2 separate regions of the Homo sapiens genome follow, and region 1 is linked to region 2. Evidence: fine-mapped expression QTL. Tissue or cell type: cartilage. Region 2 holds a variant in brackets; the other region holds the start of a gene. All regions are shown on one strand. Distances are from middle to middle.

Region 1 (8,000 bases), 650 kb after region 2:
CTGCATTCCAGCCAGGACAATAGAACCAGAGCCTGCTTAAAAAAAAAAAAAAAAAAAAAGGAAAGGAAGGAAGGAAGGGGAGAGAAGAGGAGAGGGGAAGTCAGGATGGTACCACACTAGGGATGTGGTCCAGATGTCTTAGCAATCTTGGCTGGGAGCTTTTTTTTTTTTGAGACAGAGTCTCACTCTATCGCCCAGGCTGGAGTGCAGTGGTGCGATCTCAGCTCACTGCAACCTCCACCTCCTGGCTTCAAGTGATTCTCCTGCCTCAGCCTCCCAGTAGCTAGGACTACAGGCACCACGCCTGGCTAATTTTTGTATTTTTAGTAAAGGTGGGGTTTCACCATGTTGGCCAGGCTGGTCTCGAACTCCTGACCTCAAATGATCCACCCATCTTGGCCTCCCAAAGTGCTGGGATTACAGGTGTGAGCCACTGCACCCAGCTGGCTGGAAGCTTTGAAACATGGGTGAATTACTTTTTACCCGGAGTACACATTTTTAAAAAAGTTTTCCCAACAAATCACACCTTACTTGATTTTATGGATGTGCAACCAAGTTTGGAGAAAGGAACCAAAGAAATGTCTATGTCACTAATGAAGTGAGAGTGGAGGCTACTGTTCAATCTGCTGACTCTAGGTCAGAAAATAGAGATGACTGTTCAGCCACATTATGACAGCACGCACAGGTTAGAGAAGAAGCAAGAACTGGGTTCATATCCCAGCTCTACCTCTATTTCCTGAGATGATCTTAGACAAGTCACTGCACATGTTTTGGTCAGCACATTTTCATCTATGAAAATGAACTCTCCTTATCTGGTCTTTCATGTGGAATTTTTTTTTTTTTTCTCAGCTCACTGCAACCTCCGCCTCCTGGGTTCAAGAGCTTCTGTGCCCGGCTGGAAATAATTTTTAAAAAAGAAAAAATGGGCCTGGCGCAGTGGGTCATGCCTGTAATCCCAGCACTTTGGCAGGCCGAGGCAGGTGGGTCACGAGGTCAGGAAATTGAGACTATCCTGGTTAACACGGTGAAACCCTGTCTCTACTAAAAATAAAAAAAAAAAAAAAAATTAGCCGGGCGTGGTGGCACATGCCTGAAGTCCCAGCTTACTCGGGAGGCTGAGGCAGGAGAATCACTTAAACCCAGGAGGTGGAGGTTGCAGTGAGCCGAGATCGCACCACTTCACTCCAGCCTGGGTGACACAGTGAGACTCTGTCTCAAAAAAAAAAAGAAAAAAATGAATAAAGAGGAACCATCCTGGCCAGGCGCAGTGGCTCACGCCTATAATCCCAGCACTTTGGGAGACTGAGGCAGGCGGGTCACGAGGTCAGGAGATTGAGACCATCCTGGCTAACACAGTGAAACCCCGTCTCTACTAAAAATACAAAAAATTAGCCGGGTATGGTGGTGGCCGCCTGTAGTCCCAGCTACTTGGGAGGCTGAGGCAGGAGAATGGCGTGAACCCAGGAGGCAGAGCTTGCAGTGAGCCGAGATCGTGCCACTGCACTCCAGCCTGGACAACAGAGCAAGACTCCGTCTCAAAAAAAAAAAAAAAGGAACCATCCTTATATATCCCTTCCAAGGGAATGAAAAATAAGACCCACTTACGAATCTTCTGGTAAAAGCTCTGGACCATCTCCCTACAGAAATACAGAAACACACATGCAAATATAGTTTTACATTCCTTCTTGGACTCCTTGGAACCCTCCTGAGGACCCCAGGTTAAGAACCCTTGTAATAGACAATTGAAGAGTGGTATTATTAATGCCTTCGGCCTCTTTCAGCTGCCAGCAAGGACAGGGTAGCACACTGTACTCACCTCATCTGAGTGAGACTCTTCTTCCTCTTCCTTCCCCACTTCTTCCTCAGGCTCTCCACAGGGGCTGGCTGGTATATCTGCCAGGTAGGTTCCTTGGGGTATTTCTTCACCCTCTGCTGTATACACAAGCTCTTCCTGCTCCACAGTCTCTGAGTCCTCATACTCAAAAGGCACATTGCCGTAGCGCCGGGAGGAACCTGTCTTGGGGAACTGGAGCTGCAGCTGGGTGATGATCCGAGGGGGTAGGCGGCAGGCCCGGATCAACTCCAAAAAGACCCGCAGGGGAGTCCCCACATTCCCTCTGGGCATCAGCACTGGTGGGTTCAGCTCCGGCAGTTGCTTCAGGTCAGCCAGGGTGAAGGCTTCATTCTCTGCCTTCCAACTCTGCAGTTCCTTCCGGGTCTTGAAGGGAAAGGAGCCCAGACCTTGGAAAGGAGGGAGAATAGATCTTGAAACCCAGAAGCCTCCAGCAACACTTGAGCCAGAAATTGGCCAATGTTTAAATCTGTTAGCCTTTCCCTAGTAAACATCTAGTAAATCCCTAGTAAAAATCTAGGCCGACACAGTGGCTCACGCTTGTGATCCCAGCACTTTGGGAGGCTGAGGCAGGAGGATTGCTTGAGCTCAGGAGTTCAAGACCAGCCTGGGCAAAATGGTGAGACCCTTATCTCTACAAAATATAAAAAAATTAGCTGGGAGTGGTGGTGCACCCTGTGATCCCAGCTCCTTGGGAGGCTGAAGCAGGAGGATTGCTTGAGCCTGGGAGGTGAGGCTGTAGTGAGCCAAGATTGCACCACTGCACTTCATCTCGGGCGACAGAGTACCCTGTCTCAAAAATAAATAAATAAATAATAAAATAAATCCATTAGCCTCATGCTGTTCCTCCCTCTCAAACTTCTCCAGGTCTTTTCATCTCTCCCCAAGCGGAACTACAGAACTACCTAGTAGTTTCATGTCACTTCTCATCACCTTGGCTGGGCATACAAGTTTCTTCCAGCTCTGGCTCCTGATGAACTTTTTTTTTCTTTTTTTTGAGACAGATTCTCACTCTGTCACCCAGACTGGCGTATGCAGTGGTGCAATCTCAGCTCACCGCAACCTCCGCCTCCCGGGTTCAAGTGATTCTCATACTTCAGCTTCCCAAGTAGCTGGGATTACAGGCATGTGCCACCATGCCTGGCTGATTTTTGTATTTCTAGTACAGACAGGGTTACGCCATGTTGTCCAGGCTGGTCCTGGCCTCAAGTGATATCTACCCACCTGATGACCTTTTGATTCTCGGCTGTCACCAACTCCCACCTCCTGCATGTCTTCATACGATGTGTTCCAGCCACACCAAACAATTTTTCTCCTAATTTCTTTTTTTTCTTCTTTTTTTTTTTTTGAGATGGGGTCTCGTTCTGTCACCCAGGCTGGAGTACAGTGGCGCGATCTTGACTCATTGCAACCTCCACCTCCTGGGCTCAAGTGATCCCCCCACCTCAACCTCACAAGTAGCTGGGACTACAGGCATGCGCCACCACAACCGGCTAATTTGTATTTTTGGTAGAGACAGGGTTTCACCATGTTGCCCAGGCTGGTATGGAACTCCTGAGCTCAAGAGATCCACCCACCTGTGCCTCCCAAAGTGCTGGGATTACAGGCACGAGCCATTGCAACCCAGCCCACAATGAACAATTTAACATGCCCTGAAAGTTTTTCACGGGCTTTCAAAGCTGTGTCTTTGCAAACGCCATTTACCCTGAAACCCAGAAACACCATTCTCTCCTATTAACTCCTATTTATTTTTCAAGACCCAGATGGAAAGCCACATTTCATGATCCATCTAGGAAGTTAGTTTCTCCCTTCTCTGTCATCTCACAGCACTTGGTGATAAACAGTATAGGCTCTGGAACAGATGCCTAGGTTTGTTGTAGCTCTGACACTAACTAACTCTGTAACCTCAGGCAAGTCACATAACTTCGGCTTCCCTCAGTTTCTTCACCTATGAAATGGGAGAAACAACAGCTCCTATCTCATAGGACTGTTGAGAGGGGTAAGAAAACAAAAGGCTTAGAACAGCGCCTACTAAATACAGAGTGCTCAGTGAATGCTAACAATTAGAATGACATCTCTGTGGCAATAACCTTTTTCCAAATGTCTTCCTTTGTGGATTCTGAGCACACACTATGTCCAACTGTTCTCTGCATACCCAGCTAGTCACACTAGGTCTAGCAATGTAAGCATTTGTTGAATGTGTGAACTGGAGGGCTCTGCACTGTCCTGTTTCCCCATCAAACTGATTTCCCATGAAAGTGGGAGCTGTCCAGAGAAAAGATTGTCTCTTCATTTGTATCTTACTGAAAGGACTGGGTAGGAAGCACAGAGAGAGCAGGAGAGAAAGACAGTAAAAGGGTTAGAGACTGGATTTCCTTTTTTCTTTCTGTGTTAGTGCAAAATCAACCCCTTGGATAGAGAAAGGGTCTCAAAAGGGACCTAACAAAATGAAGGCTCTTCCGAATAAGCCTCTCCGGTTTATTTTTCTCCATGTATTGGACTAACTCCCTGCAAGTTGAGCCTGAAGCTCTGTCTAGAATATGAACTAAACTCATAGAGTCCTAACCAGAGGCCTGACTTATCCTCACCACTCCTCTGAAAAGGTGCCTCTGTTCCAGGCCCGTAGGCCCAGTCTATTAACTTTCTCACTCTTACCTGATGCCTCCGTAGGTAGCCGAAGTCTGCGGATGAGACAGCGACCCGGTAGCCAAGTCCCGTGAGAATCCAGCCACCGGCGGCCCGAGTACATGCGAATAAGCCTCTGAGCTTGAGCCAACCCCCTTACCGAGATGACGCAGCAGCAGGTGCGGGTCTGGATTGGAGTAGAGTCTCGAGTGGAGAGAGGCCGGACATCGGTGGCCGAAGTCTGAGAGAGAAGCTGGCCCTCAGCGGCTGGGTCGGTAGGAATTAGGGCAGAGTTAGGAGCGGCCTGCGGAGGGGCCCGCTCAGGCCGATGCCGGTAGTGGAAACAGAGGAAGCCACCGCCGCGCTCTTCTCGGAACTGGCTAAAATAGCTCCGTAAATGGGCCGAGCGCAACACGGAGGGGATACCGCTCACTACCAGGTAAACTGTCGCCTCCTCCTCCGCCTCGCCGGGCACCGCCATCTTGGATTGTCACATGATCAGCTAGAACCAAGTCTCGCGAGAACACCGCGAGCAACGTTCCAGCCCCTGCGTTGCGAGATTGTGAAAATTCTAACTAGTCCTTTGGGATTGGGGTTGTGGAACCTGGAGCTGGAAGATCCGAAGTCTTCTGTGTTCCTTTCCCACAGAGGGAAGCCGGCGATGATGGAAAAACTCACCTGGAAAATGGGGTCATAGAGTTCTTTCATAAAGCTCTCATGAGGACCAAATAAGAAGCCTGCGGGAGGGGTCATTTTTGAGGTATTTAGTTGTGGATATTGCACACCTAATCTCAACCTTCCTCAGTTCTGAACCTTTAGTCGTTCTTCCATTTATTTTTCCAAAATGTGTTGATGAACTCCCACAAATCGGTAAGAAAAAGATAACCCGGTAGAAAAATGGGCCGAAGATACTTCGCAAAAGAGGAAACACGCAGGTCCAATTTACAATGAAAGTGCTATGAGTTACTAGAGGCTTACGTTAAAGAAAAGATGCACAACTCAATAATAAAAGAAATGCAGCGAGACCCACTTTGCATCCACTATGTTGGCAAACTTTAAAACCTTAGAGTCGATGACAACATGGTGGAACTGAAGCTCTCATACACTGTTGGTGGAAATGTAAGTTGATACAACCACTTTGGGAAACAATTGGCGTTATCTAGTAAAAGCAAAGCTACACATCATTTGACTCAGCACTTGTAGGTAATATTTTATTTATTTTTGAGTTGGGGTCTCGCTCTGTCGCCCAGGCTGGAGTGCTGGGACCACAGATGCAACCCACTATGCCTGGCTAATTTTTTAAACTATTTGTAGAGATGGGGTCTCACTGCATTGCCCAGGCTGGTATTGAACTCCAGGGCTCAAGTGATCCACTGGCCTCAGCCTCCCAAAGTGTTAGGATTACAGGTGTGAGCCACGGTCCCCGCCTTTTTGTCTTTTTTTTTTTTTTTTTTTTTTTTTGAGATGGAGCCTCGCTCTGTCATCCAGGCTGGAGTGCAATGGTGCGATCTCGGCTCACTGCAACCTCCGCCTCCCGGGTTCAAGCAATTCTCCTGTCTCAGCCTCCCGAGTAGCTGGGACTACAGGTGCGTGCCACCACGCCCGGCTAATTTTTGTATTTTTAGTAGAGACGGGGTTTCACCATATTGGTCAGGCTGGTCTCGAACTCCTGACCTCAGGTGATCCACCCGCCTTGGCCTCCCAAAGTGCTGAGATTACAGATGTAAGCCACCGCACCCGGCCCTCTTTGTACGTTTTTTAATTGGGTTATTTGATTACTATTGATTCATTGATTCATAATTCAGACAAAGTCTACACATTATACTGGGTGATAGGAGGAACCTGTAGATTGAGAGACCTCAAACAAAAGCAAAAAATAAAGGGCCAAGCTCAGTGGTTCACGCCTGTAATCCCAGCACTTTGGCAAGCTGGTGTAGGAGGATCCCTTGAGCTTAGAAGTTTGAGACCAGCCTGGCCAAGTTGGCAAGACCCTTGTCTAAACAATAAAAAAAATGACTGCACATGTTTATCAGAAGACTTATTGATAATGTTGACTTTTACCCAAGCCCTGTGATCCTGGAAAACTAAGGCTTAAGAAATGCCTTCCCACTGTTTTGTGTTCTGGAACACAGCATATTGCAAAAAAACATCCTTCCCCAAGTGAGTTAGGTAAGACTGGTGTATGCCCCTCTGGTTCACCAATGACAAAGCCAGACACAGACTCCATATTCCAAATCTCCTCATGAAAGCTTTGAGGAACTTCTTGTCCCCACTGATCAGTTGGAACAAACTTTGGTTAAAACTTCTCTCCTTCCCCCAGCTTCCCGAACTTTGGCTTACCCTCAGCTTGAGCCAGCGCACATCTCCTCCTTAACAGCCTCTCCTGAGAATAGGCTGGCTTCAAGGTAAAGCATTATCTGATCTACTGTCCCATCATGCCACTCCTGATCATCCCACTTCCTCCCACCCAGTTCTGCCCTGTTTACTCCTCTGTATGAGAGAAGAACCCTTTTTGCCTAACCCTTGAGTCACTTGCAGATATTATGGTCAGAGGGTCCTCCCTGCTGCAATATTCTTCCTCCTTCTATTGCAATAGTTCCTTTCTTCCCTTGCAATAATCCTTTCAAATAAAATCTCTCCTGGCAGGGTGTGGTAACTCACACCTGTAATCTTAGCACGTCGGGAGGTTGAGGTCGGAGGATCACTTGAGCCCAAGAGAGCAAGGCTGCAGTGAGCCATGATTGTGCCATGCATTCGGTGGGCAGCAGAATGAGAATCTGTCTCAAAAAAAAAAAAAATTATAATGGCTGGGCGCAGTGGCTAATGCCTGTAATCCCAGCACTTTGGGAGGCTGAGGTGGGCGGATCACTTGAGGTCCAGAGTTCGAGACCAGCCTGGCCAACATGGTGAAACCCCGTCTCTACTAAAAATACAAAAATTAGCCACTCATGGTGGTATGCGCCTGTAATCTCAGCTCCTCAGGGAAGCTGAGGCACGAGAATCGCTTGAACCCAGGAGGCGGAGGTTGCAGTGAGCTGAGATCACACCACTGCACACTCCATCCTGGGCAACAGAGCGAGACTCTGTCTCAAAAAAAAAAAAATTATAATAAAATCTCTCCTTACCAAGCCTGGATTTGTTTTTTATTTCACAGTATATATAAATATTCATAGCTACAGTCTTTTTAAGTGCAAAAAGCTGGCTTTTTGTACTAATAATCTCAGTTAAAGCCAGTCAGAAAACACAGAATTGTTTTATTTATGCAAAGTTCCAAAAATGCAAACTAAAAAATATTCTTAGGGCTACATAAATAAATAAGCTTTAAAATCAGGAAGAAAAGCAAATAAATGATTAACATAAAATCCAGGGTAGTTGTTACCTTTGGAGGGAAATGATAGATTTAGAAAGGGACTTCAAAGTTAATGGTAATAATGACCTATGAAACAATAGAGTTCATTCTGTTATTCTTTATACTTTACACATATTTATTAATATTATTTTGTTTTACTCAATGTTTAAAATG
Region 2 (10,834 bases):
GAGAAATGAATACACAAGTTTTTGTGTGGACTTGTACATAAATGTTGGTAGCAGCATTATTCATGATAGTCAAAAGTAGAAACAATCCAAAACCCACAACTGATGAATGAATGAATATCCATATAATACAGTAGAATATTATTCAGCAATAAAAAGAAATGAAATACTGGTACATGCTACCTTAAAAACATATACTGGCCAGATGTAGGGGCTGATGTCTATAATCCTAGCGCTTTGGGAGGCCAAGGCGGGTGGATTGCCTGAGCTCAGGAGTTCGAGACCAGCCTGGGCAACACGGTGAAAGCCCATCTTTACTAAAATACAAAAAATTAGCTGGGCGTGGTGATGTATGCCTGTAATCTACTCGGGAGGCTGAGACAAGAGAATTGCTTGAACCCGGGAGGCAGAGGTTGCAGTGAGGTGAGATCGTGCCATTGCACTCCAGCTTGGGCAACAGAGTGAGACTCCGTCTTTAAAAAAAAAAAAAAATTATATACTAAGACTGTATTTTCAGGGATCGTTTCTGTAGTATGTTACTAGAGAAGTTTTTCTGAATGTGTAGAGCACCGTTAAGAAAAAGAAAATAAAATGAAATAACCATTATATATGAAGTTAAAAAAAAGCCAGACACAAAAGGCTGTATATTGCATGATTCCCTTTATATCAGGGGTCTCCAACCCCTGGGCCAAGGACCGGTACCAGTCTGGCCTGTTAGGAACCACACAGCAGGAGGTGAGCAGCAGGTCGAGCGTTACCGCCTGAGCTCCATCTCCTGTCAGATCAGTGGCGGGATTAAATTCTCACAGGAGCAGGAACCCTATTGTGAAATGTGCATTTGAGGGATCTAGGTTGTGTGCTCTTTATGAGGATCAAACTAATGCCTAAAGTCCAGAATAGGTGAATGTACAGAAACACAAAGTAGATTAATGGTTTTCTAGGGCTTCGGAAGCTGGTGGAAACAGCATGACTGCCAAAGGGTAAGAGGTTTTCTTTTTGGAGTGATGAAAATGTTGTAAAATTGATTGTAGTGATTATGCAACTCCATTAATATACTAAAACCCATTGAATTGTACACCTCAAGTGAGCAAATTGTATAATATGTGAATTGTATTTCAATAAAGGTTTTTGTTTTTTGTTTTTCTTAAATAGGTATGAGCTGAGAGGAGTAAATTTAAAAATGAAAAGAAAAAAAAAAAGCCAGGGACAGTGGTCTGTACCTATAGTCCCAGCTGCTCCCAAGGCTGAGGTGGGAAAATCACTTGAGCCCACGAGTTTGAGTACAGTCTGGGCAACATAGTGAGATCTTGTCTCCAAAAAAAAAAGAGGGTAGTGGGGACCACATCTACTATTACTGGTTCCTAGACATCTAGCATTAATTTTAGTTTTTGTTTGTTTGTTTTATAAAGATAGGGTCTCTTTTTGTCACCCAGGCTTGAGTGCAATGGCGTGATCACAAGCTCATTGCAGCCTTGAACTCCTGGGCTCAACCTATCTTTCCACCTAAGCCTTCCAAGTAGCTGGGACTACAGGCGTGTACCATCACACTCAGCCAGTTTGTTTTGTTTTGTTTTGTTTTGTTTTGCGTGTGGAGTCAGGTTCTCACCATCTTGCCCAGGATGGTTCTTGAACTTCTGGGCTCAAGCAGTCCTCCTGCCCTGACTTTCCAAAGTGCTGGGATTACAGGTGTGAGCCACTGCACCCAGCCCCTAGAGTTAATTTTGATAGTTTGACAACTATGTGTATAATGGGGACTGTGCTCAGTAACTATTGAGTAGAATTGAATCATAGATTTTGAGGTACACAGGACTTCAAAAATTGCCTCTGCTCGTTTTGATTGGTGAATAACAAAAATTCCCCAAGGAGTTAAGTAACTTGCCTAACATCATACAGCTGGTTATCAGATTCTGGTCTCCTGACTGTGTAATATTCTATCAATTGTGTAATCAAAAATCTTACTGTTAATTTAATTTTCACTTGTTAAGGTTTTGTCTACATGTGCAGTCATAGGACCTTTTTATTTTGATTAAATAATAGATATTTTTAAAATCAATCAGTGGTCTAGATTTTTCCCCCATTGAAATGACCAGCTGTATTTAATTCAGTTACATTGCTACACAGATTGTGTGTGTGACTCTCTTTTTTATTCTTTTGGGAAAATAACTTACATTCTAGTGCATTTTTTAAAAGTTGTAATAGTCTTCTCGAGATAGGGGTCAAAGATATTGGTCTAGAAGTTTTTTTTACTTCTTCTTATTTTTTCGAGACAGAGTCGCTCTGTCGCCCAGGCTGGAGTGCAGTGGCCCAATCTCGGCTCACTGTAACCTCCACCTCCTGGGTTCAAGCGATTCTCCTCTTTCAGCCTCCCGAGTAACTGGGATTACAGGCGTGTACCACCATGCCTGGCTAATTTTTGTATTTTTAGTAGAGATGGGGTTTCACCATGTTGGCCAGTCTGGGTCTTGAACTCTTTTTTTTTTTTTTTTTTTTTTGAGACCGAGTCTCGCTCTGTTGCCCAGGCTGGAGTGCAGTGGGGCAATCTCGGCTCACTGCAAGCTCCGCCTTCCGGGTTAATGCCATTCTCCTGCCTCAGCCTCCCAAGTAGCTGGTACTACAGGCACCCGCCACTACGCCCGGCTAATTTTTTGTATTTTTAGTAGAGACGGGGTTTCACCGTGTTAGCCAGAATGGTCTCGATCTCCTGACCTCACGATCTGCCCACCTCGGCTTCTCAAAGTGCTGGGATTACAGGCGTGAGCCACCACGCCCAGGCCTAGACATTTTTTAAACTGCTATGTTTGTTACATACCATGATCCTAATCTTAACTCTTTTTGTGTGTTTGTTTTGAGACGGAGTCTCACTCTGTCACCCAGGCTGGAGTGCAGTGGCATGATCTTGGCTCACTGCAACCTCCGCCTCCCGGGTTCAAGCGATTCTTCTGCCTCAGCCTTCTGAGTAGTTGGGATTACAGGCGTGTGCCACCACACCCAGCTAATTTTTGTATTTTTAGTAAAGACGGGGTTTCACCTTGTTGGCCAGACTGGTCTCGAAGTCCTGACCTCAGCTGATCCACTCACCTTGGCCTCTCAAAGTGTTGGGATTATAGGCGTGAGCCACTGCTCCTGGCCTCTAATCTTAACTCTTACACATTTTGTTCATGAATCTAGCTTGCGGTCTAGTTGACAAGAACCCCTGTGACTGGTATACAGTATAGTTCATTGTTGCATCTTTAAATTTAATAGGCATGCTTTTGATTCCACCCTTCTTCACTAAGGTGTTTTACCTTGAAAGATTCTCGAGGGACAGAGTAGAGGTGGGTACTGAAGAGTTCAGAATGCTTTCAGCTCTTTGCAAAAGACTGAAATAGTCACTGGTGTAATTCAGGCTACTGAATCACTTCAGGTGTAGACTGAAGTGACTGAGATTTGGTAATAGCTGAATCTACCCTTACTGTGAAAGGAAGTTTGCTCAAAAATGAGTTGTTTTTTAGGGTGGGGAGGGGTCATAAAATGTGGTTAAGTAGGGGAGAGATTTAGAACTATATTCTTAAAATGGCAAAACCCCAAAGTTTTTGGGAACTGTAGATTTCTGTAAATAAAAATCACATATCCCATGCATTGTATTTTTTAAAGAGATGGATCTCACTGTGTTGCCTACACTGGAGTGCAATGACTGTTCACACAGGTACCATCATAGTGTACTATAGCCATGAACTCGGTGGGGCTCAAGTAATCCTCCTGAGTTAGACTACTGAGTAGCTGGGCCTACAGAGATGCACCACCTGCCTGGTTCCCATACACTAAATTTTGAATGCCTTTGAAAATTGTAGAAGATAGAGGTCCCTTTGAAAATGAGTGTTGCTATTTCATTTCAAAATATTCTAAACCACAGACCAGACTTACGGTGTAACTCAGAGGTCCCCAACTCCTGGCCCGTGGACCAGTACCAGTCCATGGCATATTAGGAACCAGGCCACACAGCTGGAGGTGAGCAGCAGGCGAGCAAGCATTACTGCCTGAGCTTGCGCCTTCTGTCAGATCAGTGGTGACATTAGATTCTCATAGGAGCACGAACCCTATTGTGAACTGTGCATGTGAGGGATCTAGGTTGCTCAGTCCTTACGAGAATCTAATGCCTGATGATCTGAGGTGGAACAGTTTCATCCTGAAACCATCCCCCCAACCATCGTCTGTGGAAAAATTGTGTTCCACAAAACGATTCCCTGGTAACAAAAAGGTTGGGAACCGCTGGTGTAACTTTACATTTCATAGCACAGTTAGTCTGAATCAGGCAGTTTACTTAATATAAATAGATAAACCCAATAGATAAGTTAAAAATGTGGACAAAGACCTCACCTTAATTTTCTAATATGTCCATTTATCATCTATAAAAAATTAGAAAAGCCATATTCTTCTGGGTCAGTTGGTACTTTTCTTCTTGGCTTTGGTTTTGGCATTATTTTGGGGTTATCTTAGTGTATTTTCTGTTACTGTAAGAGAATACCTGAGACAGTGTAACTTATACAGAAAAGATGTTTATTTTGCCCAGGGTTCTGGAGAGTGAGAAGTCCAAAGGCATAGTGGCAGCATCTGGCGAAGGCTTTTGTGCTGTATCATAACATGGTGGAAAAGCAGAGACCACTAGAGTGAGCCAAGCTTGCCTTTTTTTTTTCTTTTTTCTTTTTTTTTTTTTTTTTTTTTTTTTTGAGACAGAGTCTTATTTCTGTCACTCAGGCTGGAGTGCAGTGGTGGGATCTTGGCTCACTGCAGCTTCCGCCTCCCATGTTCAAGTGATTTCTCCTGCCTCAGCCTCCCGAGTAGCTGGGATTACAGGCACCCGCCATCATGCCCAGCTAATTTTTGTATTTTTAGTAGAGATGGGGTTTCACCATGTTAGCCAGGCTGGCCTTGAACTCCTGACCTCAAATGATCCGCTTGCCTCTGCCTCCCAAAGTGCTAGGATTACAGGCATAAACCACCGTGCCCAACCCAAGCTTGGTTTTTTTTTTTTTTTTTGAGGTGGAGTTTAGCTCTTGTTGCCCAGGCTGGAGTGCAATGGTGCAATCTCGGCTCACTGCAACGTCTGCCTCCCGGTTTCAGGCGATTCTCCTGCCTCAGCCTCCTGAGAAGCTGGGACTACAGGCATGCGTCACCACGCCCAGCTAATCTTGTATTTTTAGTGGAGACAGGGTTTCTCCACGTTGATCAGGCTGGTCTCAAACTCCGGACCTCAGGTGATCCGCCCACCTCAGCCTCCCAAAGTGCTGGGATTACAGGCATGAGCCACCATGCCCGGCCCCAAGCTTGCTTTTATAACAACCCACTGCTTTGAGAACTAACTCACTTCTGCTAATCTATTATGAGGCTTCTACCCTCATGACCCAGTCACCTCTTAGAGGCCCCCACCTCTTAATACTGTTACATTGGCAATTAAGTTTCCAACACATGAACTTTTGGGGGACAGACACTTTCAAACCACAGCAGGGGGTGTGGGCTCAAAACTGAATTTGGTGAATCTAGAGAGAGTGGTGCTATGGATGGAGACTGGAAGGAGGTATTGCAAAGTTCATGGTAGCAACCCCTCATGTGCTACAACCTCACAGTCTTCTGTTTTGTAATTACACCGTGGGAGCAGTGACCCTTGGTAAGAACTGATAACTATGGTGCTGTTATGGAGGATTTAAAACATATTGCTTATGGTTAAGCACGGTGGCTCATCCCTGTAATCCCAGCACTTTGGGAGGCCGAGACAGGTGAATCACTTGAGGTTAGGAATTCAAGACCAGCCTGGCCAACATGGTGAAACCCCGTCTACTAAAAATACAAAAATTAGCCAGGCATGGTGGCGGGCTCCTGTAATCCCAGCTACTCGAGAGGCTGAGGCAGAAGAGTCGCTTGAACCCAGGAGGCAGAGGTTGCGGTGAGCCAAGATCGTGCCACTGCACTCCAGCCTGGACAACAGAGTGAGTGAGACCCCATCTCAAAAAAGAAAAAATTG[G/T]GCCGGGGGCAGTGGCTCACACCTGTAATCCCAGCACTTTGGGAGGCCGAGGCGGGCGGATCACCTGAGGTTGGGAGTTCAAGACCAGCCTGACCAGCATGGAGAAGCCCTGTCTCTACTAAAAATACAAAATTAGCCGGGCGTGGTGGAGCATGCCTTTAATCCCAGCTACTTGGGAGGCTGAGGCAGGAGAATCGCTTGAACCCAGGAGGAGGAGGTTGTGGTGAGCCAAGATCGCGCCATTGCACTCCAGCCTGGGCAACAAGAGTGAAATTCCGGCTCCAAAAAATAAAACAAAAAATTGTATTGCTTACTAGTCTTTGAAGTCTTTATCACTAGCAGTCTGCCTTAACCTTGTGTACTAGTCCTATATTTAAGTTGTGAGACATCAGAAACTGGGTCCTTTAACTGAGAAATTTCTTTCTTGGTCCTGAGAGACTAATGCATGTTATCAGAACTTATTCAGGTTTTTGTTTTGTTACGTGTGTGTGTGTTTTTTTAGTGTGGCCTTTTATATATCCCCAAGATCATCTTCAGTATAGCAAATTAGATACTATGCATGTAATATAAGGCTTGCACGTCTTTTTTTAAAGTATTTATTCCTCCTGTCTAACCGAAATGTTTTACCCTTTGATCAGCATCTCTCGATTCCCCCTGCTCCCAGCTTCTGGTAACCACAATTATTCTCTCTGTTTCTATGTGTCGAGGTTTTTTTTAGCTTCCACATATAAGTAAGAACGTGCAGTATTTGTCATTTTGTGCCTGGCTTATTTCTCTTAGTGTCCTCCAGTTTCATCCATGTTGTTGCAAGTGACACAATTGACATCTTTTATAAGGCTGGTATTCCGTTGTGTAATATACTGCATTTTCCTTATCTGTTCGTCTGTTGATTCTATAACTTGGCTATTGTGAATAATTACTCAGTAAACATGGGATTGTAGATATCTCTTGGACATACATATTTCATATCGTTTGGATATATACCCAGAAGTGGATTGCTGGATCATATGGTAACTATTTTTAGTTTTTTGAGGAGCTACATACTCCATTGTTTTCCACAGTGGCTGTGTTACATTCCCCCCAACTGTGTACTAGAGTTCCCTTTTCTCTGCATCCTCTCCAAACTTGTTATCTTTCATCTTTTTTTTTTTTTTTTTGAGATGGAGTCTCACTCTGTCGCCCAGGCTGGAGTGCAGTAGTGCGATCCTGGCTCATTGCAACCTCCACCTCCTGGGTTCAAGCGATCCTCCTGCCTCAGCCTCCCGAATAGCTGGGACTACAGGCGCGTGCCACCATACCTGGCTAATATTTTGTATTTTTAGTAGAGACAGGGTTTCACCGTGTTAGCCAGGATGGTTTCGATCTCCTGACCTCATGATCCCCCCTCCTCAGCCTCCCAAAGTGCTGGGGATTACAGGCATGAGCCACTGCGCCCGGCCTCATCTTTTTCATCATAGCCATTCTGACAGGTGTGAGGTGGCTTGCCCATATTTTTAAAGAGTTGCTTAAGGCCGGGCATGGTGGCTCACACCTGTAATCCTAGCACTTTGGGAGGCTGAGGCAGGTGGATCACTTGAGCCCATGAGTTCGAGACCAGTCTGGGCAACATGGCGAAACCCCATCTCTCCTAAAAATACAAAAACTGAGGTGGGAAGATCACCTGAGCCTGGGGAGGTCGAGGCTGCAGTGAACTGTGATCACGCCACTGTGCTCCAGCCTGGGTGACAGAGTGAGACCCCATTTCAAAAAAAAAAGTTGTTTAATGAGAAGGTCGTAGCTGATCTATACTTACATAATTCTGGGAACAATTATAGTATTTGTTGTTGTTATCTGAGTGTTCTCTGTGTTGGTTGCTGGGGAGAAAAAGAAACAAGTTGGTAGTCGCTCTTCTCCGTGGTAGATATGCTTGATTTGGGAACGAGTACTGAATATAGTTGAAAAGAGAAGAAATTGGTATTCCTTATTTCCTTATTCAGTTTTCTGCCTGCTGAAAGCAATAAGTATGTTACCTCACATTCCTCCCTTATTGTTTGCTTGCAGTAGTCCCCCTCAGAGTAGTACTTGAAAGTTGGAAATAGGTAGAAATGTGAACCTTGTATAGTAGGGCTAATCAAGGGTTGTCTCCCAAGACCAGGCAGGAGCCAAAGGAAACACAAATTCAGTCTGAAGGAAAAGTTAAAAAAAAAAAAACACAGTTGGGTACACACAAGGGGGCAAGTGAAAGGCAAAATATAAAATAGAGGATTTCAGTGTGTACCCAATTGAGAGTGCTCACTGTGCTAGAGTGAAACCTGAGAGTTACTAAGAATAACTTCACATATCCAGGCAGTCAGGTTTGGGGTATGGGAGAGAGAACAGAATCCTGCCTCAGATGCCATACTCCCTGTCCTGCATACTGAGCAAGACTGTCTAGTTCGCTTCATTCTTCAGATAGTTTGGACTCGTTGCTCACCTTCCTGGGGGAGCTTTTGGAGGTCGCAGAAGATTCTGGTGACTCTTGGAAAGGATATTTTTATTAGATTTGATTATAGCTGAGAGTTGTCCAGCTTCCAGAAGAGTAGGACCTAACTCATTTTCCTTAAGTAAGTAATTTGTTTTAAAGTTTAAATTTTTTAAAAAACTTTTTAAAAGTTTTTCAGCTTTGTCTGTTGACTGACAAGATTTTTTTTATTCCAGTACAAAGGACTAAGTTAAAAGTGAAGTCATTATTGCCTTTTGTTAGTTTACCTTGTGAATGGCATTTGAGATCCTGGAACATACATCTCCCAGTTTGGTTGCCGTTTCTTTCTGCCTGATACTTTTGATGATGGTGCTCTCTCTGCTTGGTCTCAGGACAGGCCGAGAGCTTCTGGCATAGCATTCAAACTCAAGAAAGCTTGCTACTTCAATTTTTACTTATGGAAGACTATTCTCTCCCCAGATTTTTGCAGCTCAAGTGGCAGTCCTCCTTTCCAGCCCATCAAAAGCCACGTAACCATTCCAACAGCCCATGTGATGCCTTCTACTTTAGGGACCTCTCCTGCCAAGCCAAATTCTACACCTGTTGGACCCTCTTCCTCTAAACTCCCTTTGTCAGGGTTGGCTGAAAGTGTGGGAATGACAAGAAATGGAGACCTCGGTGCAATGAAACATTCTCCAGGCCTATCTAGAGATCTCATGTATTTCTCTGGTGCTACTGGAGAAAATGGAATTGAGCAGTCCTGGTTTCCAGCAGTGGGCCATGAAAGACAAGAAGAGGCGAGGAAGTTTGATATTCCTAGCATGGAATCTACCCTCAATCAGTCGGCAATGATGGAGACACTTTATTCAGATCCTCACCACCGAGTCCGCTTCCACAACCCAAGAACCAGCACAAGTAAGGAGTTGTACAGAGTGTTGCCTGAGGCCAAGAAGGCACCGGGCAGCGGGGCAGTGTTTGAGCGGAATGGACCACATTCTAATAGCAGTGGGGTCCTCCCTTTGGGACTCCAGCCTGCTCCCGGGCTCTCCAAGCCTCTGCCCTCTCAGGTGTGGCAGCCGAGTCCTGACACTTGGCATCCCCGAGAGCAATCTTGTGAACTCAGCACTTGTCGGCAGCAGCTGGAATTGATTCGTTTACAGATGGAGCAAATGCAGGTAGAGGTCTATCTTTCCTTGGATTTTCTAGGTTCTGTACAGTTCTTAGAATTGTAATAGCTTTTGTCCTTTGAATTTTGGCTTAAAGAAAATAGCTGTAAAAAGAAGGAAGATGTTTGTAGACAGGAAATACAGGCTTGTGAGCTGTTGGCCATTGAATCTGTTTGGTAGTCAAATTAAGCACCAGATAGGGTCTCCAAAATAGCAAAAGGTTACAAAGGAAAACCTAAAAACGTATTTATACGTCACTAGGCTAAGTACTTTCACATACAGCATTTTATTTAATCTTCATAGTGTACTAACGAGGTAGATGTAGAAACTTACCAGGTTCTTAGACTACATAATCTGTACGGGGTCATAGAGTTGGTAATTGGCAGAGCTGGGGTTTAAAAACCATCTTTGAGGCCAGGTGGCTCACGCCTATAATCCCAGCATTTTGGGAGGCCGAGGCGGGCAGGAGTTCGAGACCAGCCTGGCCAGCAGAGTGAAACCCTGCCTCTACTAAAAATATAAAAATTAGCCAGGTGTGGTGGCATGCGCCTGTAGTCCCAACTACTCAGGAGGCTGTGGCAGGAGAATTGCTTGAACCTGGGAGGCGGAGGTTGCAGTGAGCCGAGACTGCGCCATTGCACTCCAGTCTGGATGACAGAGCGAGGCTCTGTCTCAAAAAATAAATAAATAAATGTGAAAACCTTCTTTGAGCCCCTGTGTTCTCTCTACCACTTTTGTATTTTCTTTTTTTTTTTTTTTTGAGATGGAGTCTTGCTCTGTTGCCCAGGCTGGAGTGCAGTGGCGTGTTCTCGGCTCACTGCAACCTCTACCTCCCAAGGTCAAGTGATTCTCCTGCCTTAACCTCCCGAGTAGCTGGGACTACAGGTGCGTGCCAACACGCCCAGCTCTTTTTTGTATTATTAGTAGAAACAGGGTTTCACCATGCTGGCCCGCCTAGTCTCGAACTCCTGACCTTGTGATCCGCCCGCCTCAGCCTCCGAAAGTGCTGGGATTACAGGGGTGAGTTACTGTGCCTGCCTGTATTTTCCTTTTTTTGTTTTGTTTTGTTTTGGTGTGTGTGTGTGTGTGTGTGTGTGTGTTTTGGAGACAGAGTCTTGCTCTGTCGCCCAGTGGCATGATCTTGGCTCACTGCAACCTCCACCTCTCAGGTTCAAGCAATTTTCCTGCCTCAGCCTCCTGAGTAGCTAGGACCACAGGCGCATGCCACCACGC

Which allele goes with the higher level. Positions count from the first base shown, and alleles are read on the strand shown. Sizes are in standard deviations (SD) of each study's normalised expression.
In carriers of allele T in region 2, the expression in cartilage of the gene that starts at base 4,983 in region 1 tends to be lower than with G alone (large effect, 1.1 SD a copy in Steinberg 2020).

The links. PIP is the estimated chance that this variant, and not a neighbour inherited with it, causes the effect. A credible set is the group of variants that fine-mapping cannot tell apart.
Region 1: it holds the start of GPATCH3, and the variant in region 2 is the best candidate, but not a certain one, in a credible set for the expression of GPATCH3 in cartilage (Steinberg 2020, PIP 0.51).

The regions. Positions count from the first base shown.
Region 1 is chr1:26,895,485-26,903,484 of GRCh38, forward strand. It overlaps GPATCH3 (G-patch domain containing 3), which reads right to left and starts at 4,983. Exons shown (of 7, transcript NM_022078.3): 1 at 4,508-4,983; 2 at 1,817-2,241. The coding sequence starts at 4,958. It also overlaps a transcript of NUDC not described here. RefSeq lists an enhancer at 4,928-5,047.
Region 2 is chr1:26,246,256-26,257,089 of GRCh38, forward strand. It overlaps CEP85 (centrosomal protein 85), which reads left to right. Exons shown (of 14, transcript NM_001319944.2): 4 at 8,916-9,610. It also overlaps the pseudogene LOC124904684. Among named protein-coding and RNA genes, the nearest start is that of CEP85, 17 kb to the left of the region's middle. The variant G/T (reference allele first, on the strand shown) is at 5,996.